Linked DNA regions of Homo sapiens. The protein of the gene in region 1 interacts with the protein of each later gene in a biochemical or structural test. Each region holds a gene or a part of one and is shown in the gene's direction. Other genes may lie near its edges.

Region 1 (7,000 bases):
GGTCCCTGATCTGTGATCTTCACTGAAGCTGCAAGTGTGAAAAGCTTGAAATGCCACAGGGCACCCGCATTTTAACCCAGGAGATACAGAAATCAAAACTGGAAACCTACCAGGAATTGATCTCAGCTGGAAGCAGAGAGAGGCATGATATTTGAAGGAGGACACCCAGACCCTTCACCATCCCCTTAGGCCTCCCTGGAGCTCCATTTTGGAGACAGGAGTCTGAGGTGGTCTGTGGTGCCTCCCAGTCCCTTGCCAGAGCAGAGACGGAAAGAATGGGTGACAGATGGCCACAAACTCTGTCTCTGTAACCCCCTGGAAGATTCCACCTGTCATGGCAAGACATGGCAAGCTGTGTCATCTAGGCAGTGATGAGTGAGCACCATTGGGTGGGCAGCTCGGAGGAGGGGAGTGCCTGAGCAAAGGTTCGGGAGGTGGGAAAGTGTGGTGGAGGGGCTTGTGGGGCAGGGAGTGCACCCTTCAAAACCCAGAGGTACATGACACACATTGCTTTACAAAGCGACTGTTATCAGATAACAGGGGTTGAGGAAACGGAAGACAAATTTTGTCTGGGGAGAGAATTACAGAAGAGGGGCAAAAGTATAAAGGGGGCTGCCCACAGAACCCCATCCTTGGGGCCTGGGTCACCTAGGGGATTGGGGGCATCTGTGTGTTCAGAAAGAGCCTTAACATGGGGTAAATGACACCCAAGGCCCCTTAACTTCCTGTTGGCCCCCAGCTATCTGATCCTATTAGGGAGTAACCTTTAGAAGAGAGTGGGGGGCCATGCGTTATCATCTTGTTATTGGGTAATTGATTGGTGCTGCTCTGATGGCCAACTCCAGAATGTCCTGTTGATACAACTATTGCCCCGAACCAGCATTTATTCTGAGAACCAGGAAGTCGAATTTCTCCTGCCCACCAGGAGTGTCTGAAACATGGATGTTTTCCCCCAAGATTGGAGCCAAAGATGAAAATCACAACTTTAATGACTTCCAAACTGGATCTCCCCTCCGTCCTACCCCACAGTGGGCCCTTCTGGTGGTTTGGTTGTTGCCAATCAAGCTAGAGGGACTCTCAGGCCAGGCAGGGAAAGTGGTGTGTCCCCCAACAGCTCCCTAATTGCCCTCAGGTGACATGCTGTCCTATTTAAAAGGTCCCTCAAGAAAGTCCTGCCCTCTGTACCCCAGCCCAGCCCTGCTGGAAGCCAGTGTACAGCTTCACATCTTCTGTCCTCTCCAACGTGCAGAGCTTGTCTGTGGTCTTGTACCTTTGCCCATGAGGTTCTTTCTGCCCTTTTTACAGGGCTCACCTCTTCCATGTAGCCTTCTATCCATGCCAGCTCACAGAGATTCCTCCTTTTTGAATATTCATAGCCTTTTTCACATGAACCGCTTGTTTGCCTAGCAATTTGAAAGAAGCCAAAACCTCTTTAATATCATGACTTCCTACTTCAGTTACAAACTTCCAAAGAAAGGGGTCAGGTCTTTTAGTTCCATATCCTTGTGTCCTACATGCACTTGGCACTCCATAAATGCTTGAGGCCAATGATACGCTGATTGAAGGCTGCACAGCCTTTTCTTTTGTGTCCCTGGAGCCCCTGAATTTCTGGAGGTGTTTACAAGGTGGCCTAGATCACAGGGCGGGGCTAAGTAGGGGGAGACCCAGGGCTTGGGGGGCTAGGAGCCCAACTCCATTCCGCAGCAGCTGGTGACCCCCACCACAAGGCTACCACACTCCTCTCCAAGTCTGGAAAGCAGAGGCCACCCAGGCAATTGAGTAGGGACCCTGCTTGGCCCCAACTCCCCTAATTTTATCCTCCCCAGCTGTGCTCCTGATACTTGTCAGGGAGAAAGGATGGGGGAAGGAGAGGCCAGCCCTGGATACTGTGTCTCAGCCGGAAGAATGGAGAATAGCTTGGTGTACAGACTTGGGGGAGCCCTGGGGCATCAGTGGGTCCCAAATGCGGGTCTCTGGACCACTGAGAAACTGGGAAAATAAGGGTGGCCTGTGTGTGTGTGTGTGTGTGTGTGTGTGTGTGTGTGTCAGCATCAGTGTCAGCCATGGCTGCCAACGTGTCTTTTCTTAGGCAGAACTGTCCTTTGCTGGTTTGGAAGAGGCGTGGGTGTTTGCATGTTGTAGGTCATCAGTAGGGCTAGAGAATCTGGGGTCCTGTCTCCTCTAGTATTTTAGGATTTTATTCTAGGAAGCTGCTCCCTTCCCTCTGGACCTCATTTTCCCATCTGAGAAAAGAGCTCCATGTTCTCAAGGTCCCTGCTCGCTCTGACAGTCGGCTCCCTGAGTTACCAGCTAGCAGGCAACGGAAGCTGGTGTCCTAGAGTAATAGCATTCAGGGGATCAAAGTGCCCATTGGAGCTGAAGTGGCCCATGGAACAGTCTAGAACATGCAGGCACTTTCACAAGAAACAAAGACCCATCCAGGAGACTTTTGGCTCATTACCCTGACCAAGCTACCTGGAAGGAAATGGTTTTTCTTTTTCTTTTTGTTATTGCTGTGGTTTTATTTTGAAAAACCTAGTCTTGAAAAAAGTACATTTGGTTTTGGGAGCCCACTTTGGGGCAGGACCCATGGCTCCTTGCCAAGTGGACAGTGAGCTGGGAAGGTTTCTCAGGCGGGGAGCCCTGGTGTGGCTGGAGTAGCCTCTCGAGGGTGGCTGGGCTGGTAAGGTGGAGCCTGCCTGGCCATCAGCTGTGGGAGCTGTGGAGGTGCTGAGGAGATCGCAGACAGCCGGGGATACGGGGCCTGGCTGTTTAGAGACCGTCTGTGAAGCCTGCCCCTGTCAGGGTTGGAGTCTGAGGGGCGGCCCTACCAACAGAGGATGAGACAGGTGTCCAGGCTGAGGGATGGCGCTCTCTGCCAGGCCTCGGTCTCCCTGCCCAGGGCTGCCCAGAGATAGCCAACGCGTCCCTGTGCAGGTGGGGGCGGCAGTGACGCTGTGTGCCTCCCTCCCCACGCACAGTGTAGTACAGCGAAGCCAGTCCGTCCCTCCTGCCAGCGTGGCCTTGATGGAGAAGAGAGGAGTGACGGGTACATGGGAGGCCTTCCCTCAGCCTGGCGTCCACAGGGCAGTGGGAAGGCATTACTATCTGTGTGGTGTCAGCGTTTATACAAGAGTCTGGAAGCCACCACTGTGTCCTCTCCTCTACTCTCCTGCCAGTAGGGCCTCTGTGCAGCCTTGGCATGTTTCCTCTCCACAGGGGTAGGGGTTGGAGGGACTGCCCCCAAAGCAGAAACAGTGCTGATAGTCAGAAGCTTTGAACATGGCTGCAGAACCCCCTGCCCCAATTTGACCTCAGTAATACCCAGGGGTGCCCCCACCTCAACCAGTACATGTTTAATGGAATGAACGAGCCTGCAATGAAATGTCGGTTCTCTTTTTAGCAGAAATGGCCTAGGCCGTGGTTGTGGTCAAGGCCTGTTGTCTGTAAGTGACGTGACGGCACACACTCAGGCCACATCCTATGGGGTAATGGTGCTTGCATCCCCACCTTCTGGAACTGAGAGAGCCCCAGAGCCTGGCTCTACACACAGGCCTGGAGCCATGGGGAAGCAAGGATTCCAGTAGAGGGGGGTGGGAGTGGGGCCTTTGAGCCCATCCTCGAGGGGCTGCCCTAGGGGGGCTCTCCTAGAGGATACTCCCCTGTGAAGGTGGCCTCCATTTTGCTACTGACTCTGGGACGTTTAGCAAAGCTGAGAACTTTTTATTCCCTAGTTAAGAGATGCGCCACCCTACCTCCCGACTGACATTTAACACGGGGTGTCAGGCACTGATGCGAAAGCCTGTTCTCTGAAAGATAAGCTGGAGAGAGGGGTGGACAGAGGGCACCCCAACAGTAGCAGAGAAGCCTTCCCCTCCTCCAAAGTTTCCCAGAGCTAAATTGTTCTGTGAGTCAGTAAGTGTGCTTCTTCACCCATCTTCACGGACTGAAGAAATAAAGGGCTTTGCATCTGAAATTCACAATCTGATGATCTCTGGCTACAGGGAACAAGCTGTCAAGAAAGAGTCACCGGGGACCTTTTCCCCTAACCTCCATGTTCCCAGCTTCCTTAATCTCAGTCAATGTCAGAGATTGATAATGTAAATTTCTCTAGGGATGTTGCAGTTCAAAGCAAGGACTTATCTCTCTACCGATGGCATCTGGTGACAGCATTTATTATCGTTGCTTCTTTCTGTTCTTGACATTTTTGACGGAGCATCCATCTAAACTATACTCAAGGACTCTTCTCGCAATGGATATCTTCTCATTTATCTTCACCCATCCTCCTAATCATCATCCAGACATCCACCTGTCCATTCTATTCACCATCCATCCATCTAGCCATCTACTTATCCACCCATCCATCCATACATCCACCCATCAACCCACCCTTCATCCATCCATCCACCTATCCACCCATCGACCTATCCACCCTCCCACGCTTCTATCCATCCATTTATCTATCCATCCATGCATCCATCCATCCATCCACTCACCTACCCTTCCATCCTTCCATCTATCAATCCATCTATTTACTGAGCACCTGAACACCTAGGAGTTTCCAGTTTATCTACTAAGGAAAATGATTTGATTTGGATGTTTGTCCCCTCCAAATCTCATGTTGAAATGTGATCCCCAGTGTTGGAGGTAGGGCCTGGTGGGAGGTGTTAGGGTCATGGGGGCAGATCCATCATGAATGACTTGGTGCCATCCTCACAGTAATGAGTGAGTTCTCAGTTCACATGAGATCTGGTTGTTTACAAGAGCCTGGCACCTCCCTGCTCTCTCCCTCTTGCTGCCTTTCTCGCCATGTGACATACCTGCTCCCCCTTCCCCTTCCACCATGATTGGAGGCTTCCTGAGCCTCACCAGGAGTAGATGCTGGCACCATACTTCTCATACAGCCTGCAGAACCATGAGCCAAAATAAACCTCTTTTCTTTGTAAATTACCCAGCCTCAGGTATTCCTTTATAGTGAGGCAAAATGGACCAACACAGAAAATAAGAGAAATATGTGCGTATTTAAAGCACAGGGTACTGTATAAAAAGCTGCCGAACTTCTGTTACAGTTGGCTGTGCAGAGTGAGTAGGGAGGACTCCTTGACAGAGCTGGCATGTGAATTGGATCTTGAAAGATACGTAGGATTTTAACCACTGAAATCAAGCATATGCAGAGAAGCGTATTGCAGATAGGAGAAACGCACCGAGTGGGAAAGGACAAGTTGTGTGTGGGAGCCCTAAGAATCTGGGGTGGGGGCAGAGAGAAGATTCCATGTGTGATGGGCCTGGAAAGGTGGTTGGGGCCCCCTTGGCTATGGGTGGGCAAGTTTGACTTTTACCATGGTGGTGAAGACCACAGTTCTGTTCTTCCGGGCAAGACACTGAAACAGAACCTGCCAGAGCACCTTCTTCCCCCTCCTCTGTTAGGTAAAAGTCAATCTCTATAGCCCACTGTTGTTGCCAGGGTTACCTGAGATGATGATGTTCTTGTCTCTTTGGGTTGTGAGACCGGTGGGGGGCTCTCACCTGTATGTATGTGGTGTGTGTGTGTGTGTGTGCATGTGCTATTGATTTTCCAAAAAATGTATTATAGACTTTAAAAGTTCATACACAGACACACCCAAAACAGGGAAATTTAAAGCATCAAACATTTTTATCACCCGGTGCAAGTACGTGTTACCTTGTATTCTTTTTTCACTGAGTGTTACCTCTGGTACACATTCCTGTGTGCTGTGTTGTGGACCTATGTTGCCTACCTGCCATCTTCGATGGTGTCATCATATTATGATCATTTTAATGGTCAGAGTTATTTCATGTGTCTATCTTGACTTCTTTCCAAGTCCCCTCTGTTTTAAATGAAACTCCTGAAAACTTCTGTGGATCTAGGGTTTAGGGACCATTTCCTTGAGATCTGTCACCATCCTGGAGCCTTTGAGTCCAAGAGTGAAGCAGAGCCTGCTGATTGGCCCCTGAATTTTTGCTGGGTGTAAGTTTTAGCTGAACATTTCCCAATTTTCTTGCAGCTAGGTGTGGCCATATGACTAAGTTCAGGACAGTGAGATATAAGTGGGGAGTATAATTTGCTTGGAGAACCCCTTAATGGGGGTGTCCTTCTCTCCTTTCCTCTCTCCTGTTGCCTGAAATACAGATGTGATGGCTGGAGTTGAAGTGGCCATCTTGGACTCTGAGACAAACTTAAGCATAGAAGCTATGCAGGATAGAACAACAATATATTATAGTAAGGGTCCCAAACATGTCAGACCATCATCCCAGCTACAGACTGCTTACCAGTTTTTTATGAGAGGAATACATACTATCTTGTTTGTTTGTTTTATTTTATTTTATTTTTGAGATGTAGTTTTGCTCTTGTCACCCAGGCTGGAGTGCAGTGGCGATCTTGGCTCACTGCAACCTCTGCCTCCTGGGTTCAAGCAATTCTCCTGCCTCAGCCTTCCGAGTAGCTGGGATTACAGGTGCCTGCCACCACTCTTGGCTAGTTTTTGTATTTTTAGTAGAGACGGGGGTTTCACCATGTTGGCCAGGCTGGTCTTGAACTCCTGTCCTCAGGTGATCCACCCATCCTGGCCTCCCAAAGTGCTGGGATTACAGGCGTGAGCCACCGTGCCTAGCCATACTATCTTGTTTTAATTTCTTATTTTAGATTTTCTATCACTTACAAGCTTAGTTCTAATGAACACAGAGAGCTTTCTATCTCTGTCACATAGCACCAGATTATATGCCCGAAGTACTCAGCTGCTTTGCAGGGCGACCTGCAAGTCCCCATTTCCTAGTGGAGGCAAGAAGGAGGAAGAGAGGGGAGAGAGAAGAGGCAGCTTTGCATCCACTAAGGCTCTTGTTTCAAGGACTAGATTGCAAACATTTTTTTTTCATATTAAGTGTTTATGAGTTTTAGATTTTGCCAGAAGCTTTGAACTGTTTATTCTGACTCTCAAATCCTTGTGCTTTGACAGGGCTAGGTTTGCTGCTCAAGGCAGCCATG
Region 2 (7,041 bases), on another chromosome or scaffold:
GATTCTCCTGCCTCAGCCTCCAGAGTAGCTGGGATTACAGGCGTGCACCACCACGACCAGCTAATTTTTGTATTATTAGTAGAGACGGGATTTGACCATGTTGGCCAGGCTGGACTCTAACTCCTGACCTCAGGTGATCCACGTGCCTCAGCCTCCCAAAGCACTGGGATTACAGGAGTGAGCCACCGCGCCTGGCCGTGTGTGCGTGTGTGTGTGTGTGTTTTAATCCTATCTAATTTTTCCAACAGTTTTTTGCATCCTAAGAGAGTTTAGGAGTAGAATTATCAATAAGGAATTTCATACATAGACCTGGAGTTGCAAAAATATATTTGGAGAAGAGAGCTTTCCCATTGCCCTTCAAGTCATACCTCATATCTTTTAAAATTTTTTTCCTGGACAATCCCTACTGCATAACATACCTCATATCTTCTAACTCTTACTTTACCTGGGAGCAAATATTGCTTATTGGTATGAATTTTACTTCTGAGAAGGAGGCATAGGGTAGAAGAAGCAAGCGTATAGTTTGCTCCCTAATCCTAAAGCATTTCAGATTGGAAGGTAACCAAAGTGTGAGACAATGAACTTATAATAAGGAAATGCAGCAGCCCTCTTGGAGGAAGGATACCATAAAACCCTACATGGTATACTCCCACTTCCGTTTTGGGAAAGATTTAGCCATTGACTCAACAGTAACTGAACTGAATAAGGAGCTACCCAGGTGAACAAAGTATGTGTACATTTCTGGGCAAGGTTGTAGCTTCTGTTCAGGGACAGTGGGTACCTTTTCAGAGTGTCTCCTGGTTCTGTGGTGTTATGGCTCCTTTTTTTAAACTTGTGTTTCTCAAGTCAGGAATTAATAGATAGTGGCCCAAAGCTTTTGACCGTTCAACATCAACTGAAAATTCAGCGAACTTTGTTTTTAGCTATAGTTGCCTCAGTGTTTGGGTGGGAGGGCCACATATTGGGTGTGATTAGGCCATCTGAGGCATAGTAACGGGTGACAGGAAAAGCAGTTAGCCCATGCGAGTTGCAATAGTACCTTGTGGGCAAGATCCCAAGGGGGCCCTCCATCCAAGGGAGATCACAGAGGAGCCAGGGAGAGAATTGATTCTGAGGCCTATTAAAAATATTCCCAAATGGGGCCGTGTGCGGTGGCATGCGCCTGTAATCCCAGCACTTTGGGAGGCTGAGGCGGGTGGATCACGAGGTCAGGAGATTGAGACCATCCTGGCTAACACGGTGAAACCCCGTCTCTACTAAACAAAATACAAAAAATTAGCTGGGCGTGGTGGTGGGCGCCTGTAGTCCCCCAGCTTCTCGGGAGGCTGAAGCAGGAGAATGGCGTGAACCTGGGAGGCAGAGCTTGCAGTGAGCCGAGATCGCGTCACTGCACTCCAGCCTGGGCGACTGAGCAAGACTCCGTCTCAGGAAAAAAAAAAAAGAACCCAAATGGAATTGAGTAAGATCTGTCCAGATGGTACAGAAAGGGAGGAGTTGATTGGGGGAGAGAAGTAGAATTACTTAGCCTTAATTTAGGGAGCATTTAATGAGCACCTACTAGGGATCAGGCAGCATGCTGTGCTCTGAAGATTTTAAGATAAACTCCCACTTTTAAAGAAGTTCATAGTTTAGCAGAGCAGACAGACACAATTTATATACTGTGATAATGTGATACATACTATTATAGAAATACAGTCTTTTTTTTTTTTTTTTGAGACGGATTCTTGCTTTGCTGTCCAGGCTGGAGTACAGTGGTGCAATCTGTGCTCACTGCAACCTCCGCCTCCCGGGCTCAAGCAATTCTCATGTCTCAGCCTCCTGGGTAACTGGGATTACAAGCCTGTGCCAACATGCCCAGCTAATTTTTGTATTTTTAGTAGAGACGGGGTTTCACCATATTGGCCAGGCTGGTCTCGAACTCCTAACCTCCAGTGATCCATCTGCCTTGGCCTCTCAAAGTGCTGGGATTACAGGTGTGCGCCACCACACCTGGCCAGAAATACAGTCTTAATACTGTGGGACCCTACGGGCCTCTAGAGAATGATTAATTCTGTGGGGGAGAGGGTGATTATGTAATTTCACTGAAGTAACATTTGAGCTTGGTCTTATGAGATATATAGAATTTTGCTAGGCAGACAAGTAGGGACGGGCATTCCAATCTTACCTAGGTCAATAATAGGGAGTTTGTACTACCATACTGATAAGAGGTAAGTATGCTTTTTGCCTCTTGGAGAAATATAAGGGAAAGGGTGCGAGATGTGGAAGGAATCTCATTTAATCCAATGACTCATTAGGTAACACTGGATCAACAAAATGAAGAGCTGAGCCAAGTGGTAGAACTCTCATTTCAAGATTTTGGTGACTTGGGTTTAAACAGAGTTGGAGAGGGAGATGAAGGTATTTACTGGTTTCTGCTCTATCTTCCCTACTTAGTAAAACTCTCACATTAATCGCAGGGCCCACCAAATTCTGCAAAAGTTACCGCTTGTTTTCCTATTGCCTCTCATTGAATTGCTTCTATTTCAACTGTCCTGGCAGGGTTTGGTCATAGACCTTCTAGAAAAGAGTAGTGATGAATTAATTCTTCTGTCAGAAAGATATGGGACTGCATCCCAGTTGCCAAGGAAGGCCTGGGTCTTCTTAATTTGTTTTTAGTCCCAAAGCAAGTACTTACCTAAACTGAATAGAGGCAGGAACTCTATCCAGTCTAAGCTCTCGATCCTGTCCTGGTGTTCTCTTTAGAGTTCAGCATTTCCTGCTTCCTTAAGAAGTATAGTGGTATAAGAGGCAGGAGTACCTGACTAGGAGTCCTACATTTACTGCTTAGCAGTTGGCTGTATGGTAACACTTGACAAGTTGACTAATTTTATTTTATTTTTTATTTATTTATTTATTTTTTGTGCAAATGGTGGCCTTTAATACCAAGAAAGACCATGACAAGTGACAGAACAGGAGCAAATTCCCTAGTGTAGTGCCGAGCTAGCCCTTTGCAGGACCCTAAAACCTGATCTAGTAACAGAATAAATCAGTGTATTTACATTTATGTTTGCCCTGAAAACCCAGGTAAGGTCTGAAGCCTGAGGCATCTCTCCTTCCTTTCCTCCTCCCTCTCTTCCTACCTCCTTGCCTTCGTTCACTTCCTCAATTCATTCCTCTCCCTTCTCCCTTCCTCTCTTTTCCTTCTTTTCCTTTCTGCTTTTCCCTTTTCTCCTTTTTCTCCTCATTCTCTTTACCATCTACCTATGTGTCCCTCCAAGCCCCTCTGCTATTTCTCCCCTGCTCACTCCCTCTGCTGTTGTCTCCCTCAGGTTCAGCTTCCGGGGTGGGGAGGCAAGAAAGGGTCCTCAGCTCAGGGAGCACTTGTTGGTGTTCTTTATGTCACAAGTTTTCAGGTCAGTACTGGGAGGCTTGTTGCCGTTTCCTGATCTCCGGCCTCCTGACTTGAGCAAGATGTCCCGGGCCAGGGAACTAAAAGCCTCATCCACATTCATACTGGATTTAGCACTAGTTTCGAAAAATCGGATTCCATGCTCTCGAGCCAACTTATCGGCCTGCTCCTTCTGCACCTTCCTCTTGGCCTCCATGTCACATTTGTTCCCTAGCAAGAGGTGCTCCACCCCAGCTGAGGCATTCTCCATGATGCTTTTCATCCAGTTCTGAATATTCTCGAAAGATTTCTCATCCGTGATGTCGTATGCTAGGATAATGCCCATGGCTCCACGGTAGTAGGCAGTAGTTATTGTCTTGAACCGCTCTTGGCCAGCTGTGTCCCAGACTTGTAGTTTGATCTTCTTCCCCTCTATATCCACAGTGCGGATCTTGAAATCAATTCCGATGGTGGAGATGTAAGTGTTGTTGAAGTTGTCCTCTGCAAAGCGAATGATCAGACAAGTCTTGCCCACCCCCGAGTCCCCGATCAGCAGCAACTTGAAGAGGTGGTCGTAGGCTTTGGCCATGGCGGACACCGGGGGAGCCGGGGAAGGGATGGGGCTATTTATTTATTTTTGAGACGGAATCGCTCTGTTGTCCAGGCTGGAGTGCAGTCGTGTGATCTCGGCTCACTGCTACCTCTGCCTCCCAGGTTCAAGCAATTCTCGTGCCTCAGCCTCCTGAGTAGCTGGGATTACAGGCACGCACCACCACACCCAGCTAATTTTTGTATTTTTAGTAGAGACAGGTTTTCACCACGTTGGCCAGGCTGGTCTCAAACTCCTGACCTCAGGTGATCTGCCCATCTCGCCCTCCCAAAGTGCTAGGATTACAGGTGTAAGCCACCACGCCTAGCCCAAATTGACTAATTGTATGTGTCTCGGTTTCCTCACCTATAAAATATAGAGACTGGACTAAATGACCTCTAGACTGGCTCTGATCTGCCTGACTGACCTTAAGGCTGACAACTGGTACTGGGTTGGACTCCAGTGGCTATATATACCGAGAACTCTGTCTCTGTTGATAGGTGATAGACTTCTGGAGACTTCATATGTATTTGGTTTAGGGACTCAAAGCTAACAAGTGGAAGGGGGCTTGAGGAATGGAGTCTTACTCTAGCTGGGACTGCTAAGACACTTTTACTGTTATGCCTACTTTGCTGCACTGCTTGGGAGAGTTGCCCACATTAAAGAACATCCTCCATGGGTCTCCTGCATCTAGTGGGCTAACCCATGGTCAGGCCTCAATCCTCCCTAGTTAATGGGTCATTTTATAAGTCATTCTTGTAGAGCCGTACTTCTTTTTTTTTTTTTTTGATGGAGTCTTGCTCTGTCACCCAGGCTGGAGTGCAGTGGCAAAGTCTCGACCCACTGCAGCCTCTGCCTCCCAGGTTCAAGCAATTCTCCTGCTTCAGCCTCCCAAGTAGCTGAGATTACAGGTGTCAGCCACCACACCTGGCTAATTTTTGTGTTTTTAATAGAGACGGGGTTTCACCATGTTCGCCAGACTGGTGTTGAATTCCTGACCTTAGGTGATCCGCCCACCTCAGCCTCCCAAAGTGCTGGGATTTCAGGCATGAGTCACTGCACCCGGCAGAGCTGCACTTCTAAGGGAAGTTAAATCTGATTTCTTCTCTTCTGAGCTAAAAAGGTTGAAAGGAAGAGAAACCTGCCCCATCTCCCTTTTTTTTGTCTCGGGTTTGAAGGTAATAATCATCATACCACTTGACTGGTTTACCAAAAAAAAAAAAAAAAATTAGTATTTTTGTGGGAAAAAATGAGAATAGAAAATAAATAATTGAATCTTATATGTATTATTTCATTTCTGTACCACAGAATTTTTGAGAGTCTAGCTATTATATTTTTTAAATGATACCCTTATAAACATGATAAGATTAAAGATCAAAGCTTAGAGGTGGCTCAACAATTGCTGTGAACAGGGAGGAAGGCAGGACATATTCTTTCTTTTTCAGAGGTGGGATCTCACTATGTTGCCCAGGCTGGTCTCAAACTCCTGGGCTCAAGTGATCCTCCTGCCTTGGCCTCCCAAAATGCTGGTATTACAGGCGTGAACCATGATGTGCAGCCAGAACATACTCTTAAGGCTACATATTAGGGTACGAGGTAGTCTTTTCTAAGTCAGTAGTTACTGATCTCTGAGAATCCAAGGTTGCTTAGTAGCAAGAAAGCTTGCTGACCACATCTGGGCTCTGGCTTGACTTCCCATCTCTGAGAGTTAGTGACAGAGACTTTGCAACTCAAGCGTGTCTGCAATTGTTTCCTGTCTTTACACTCCCCCAGAGCTCAAGTGATATGTTTAGCCATGAGAATTCAGTCCATTCTAACTCCCACATTTTCCTTTATTGTAGAGTAGTAACATTGAGGCTTAATATTCTACCCCTTGGATCACATGCTTTGAAATACATAAAAATGTAAGGGAGTAAGTTGAAAAAACCAGTAACTTTTTCTATTGTTTCTTGAGAGTATAGCATATATATGTCACCTGAAGGAAACTTGATCAGCTTATCATCTGTCCTTTTTTTTTTATTATGGTGTCACCTGTCTTCTCTTTTATTTATTTTTTATTTTGAGAGACGGAGTCTTGCTCTGTTGCCCAGGCTGGAGTACAGTGGCATAATCTCAGCTCACTGCAACCTCCGCCCTCTGGGTTCAAGCGATTCTCCTGCCTCAGCTTCCCAAGTAGCTGGGACTACAGGCATGTGGCGCTACACCCAGCTAATTTTTGTATTTTTTAGTAGAGACGGGGTTTCACTATATGTTGGCCAGGCTGGTCTCAAACTCCTGACCTCTCAAACACCAGAGTGAGACTCTCTCTAAAAATGGAAAATAAATTTTAAAATGTTATAATTAAAGATACTCATTTAAATTGAATAAATTTAGCTTTATGAAAAATTTGCTGTATCATCTTTATTTTGATCCTTTCGTCATAGGCCATTGAAAACTTAATCATAAAATGGTACATGTATATCTGAATTTTTAAGACTGACTGACCAAGGGGACTACAGAATACCCAGTAGAATCAAAGTAATTGTCATGTTCCTCTGTATTAATCTAGTCTACTTTGGGACCTTGAGTTCTCACCTCTCATTCTTTTGCTAACTTCCTCTTTACCCTTTAGTTATGTCTCCTTTTTTTTTTTTTTTTTTTTCCAGAGATAGCGTCTTGTTCTGTCGCCCAGGCTGGAGTGCAGTGGTGTAATCAGCTCACTACAACCTTCAACTCCTGGGCTCCAGTGATTCTCCCACCACAGCCTCTGGAGTAGCTGGGATTACAGGCACATACCACCATGCCCAGCTAATTTTTTTAAATGTTTTCTAGAGACTCAGTCTCGCTATGTTGCCTAGGCTGGTCTCAAACTCCTCACCTCAAGCAAGGCTTCCCCTTTTATCTCCCAAACCCCTGGGATTACAGGCATGGGCCGCTCTGCCAGGCCTGTTTTTTCTCTTTTTCTTTCTCTGTACCACTTTCATATTGTGGCTTCTTCCCTGCCCCCGATCTCCCCCCTACCCACCCCAGGTGGAGTCTTGCTCTGTTACCCAGGCTGGAGTGTGGTGGCACGATCTCGGCTCACTGCAACCTCCGCCTCCCGGGT

The links.
Region 2: the proteins of RIN3 (region 1) and RAB5B form a complex in vitro, tested with the Homo sapiens proteins (one study listed by BioGRID).

Annotation. Positions count from the first base shown.
Region 1 is NC_000014.9:92,516,781-92,523,780, forward strand, and holds part of RIN3 (ras and Rab interactor 3), read left to right. Parts: intron 1-7,000. UniProt on the Homo sapiens protein: Ras effector protein that functions as a guanine nucleotide exchange (GEF) for RAB5B and RAB31, by exchanging bound GDP for free GTP. Required for normal RAB31 function.
Region 2 is NC_000012.12:55,977,078-55,984,118, forward strand, and holds part of RAB5B (ras-related protein Rab-5B), read left to right. Parts: intron 1-2,294; coding exon of another isoform or gene 2,295-2,397; intron 2,398-7,041. UniProt on the Homo sapiens protein: The small GTPases Rab are key regulators of intracellular membrane trafficking, from the formation of transport vesicles to their fusion with membranes.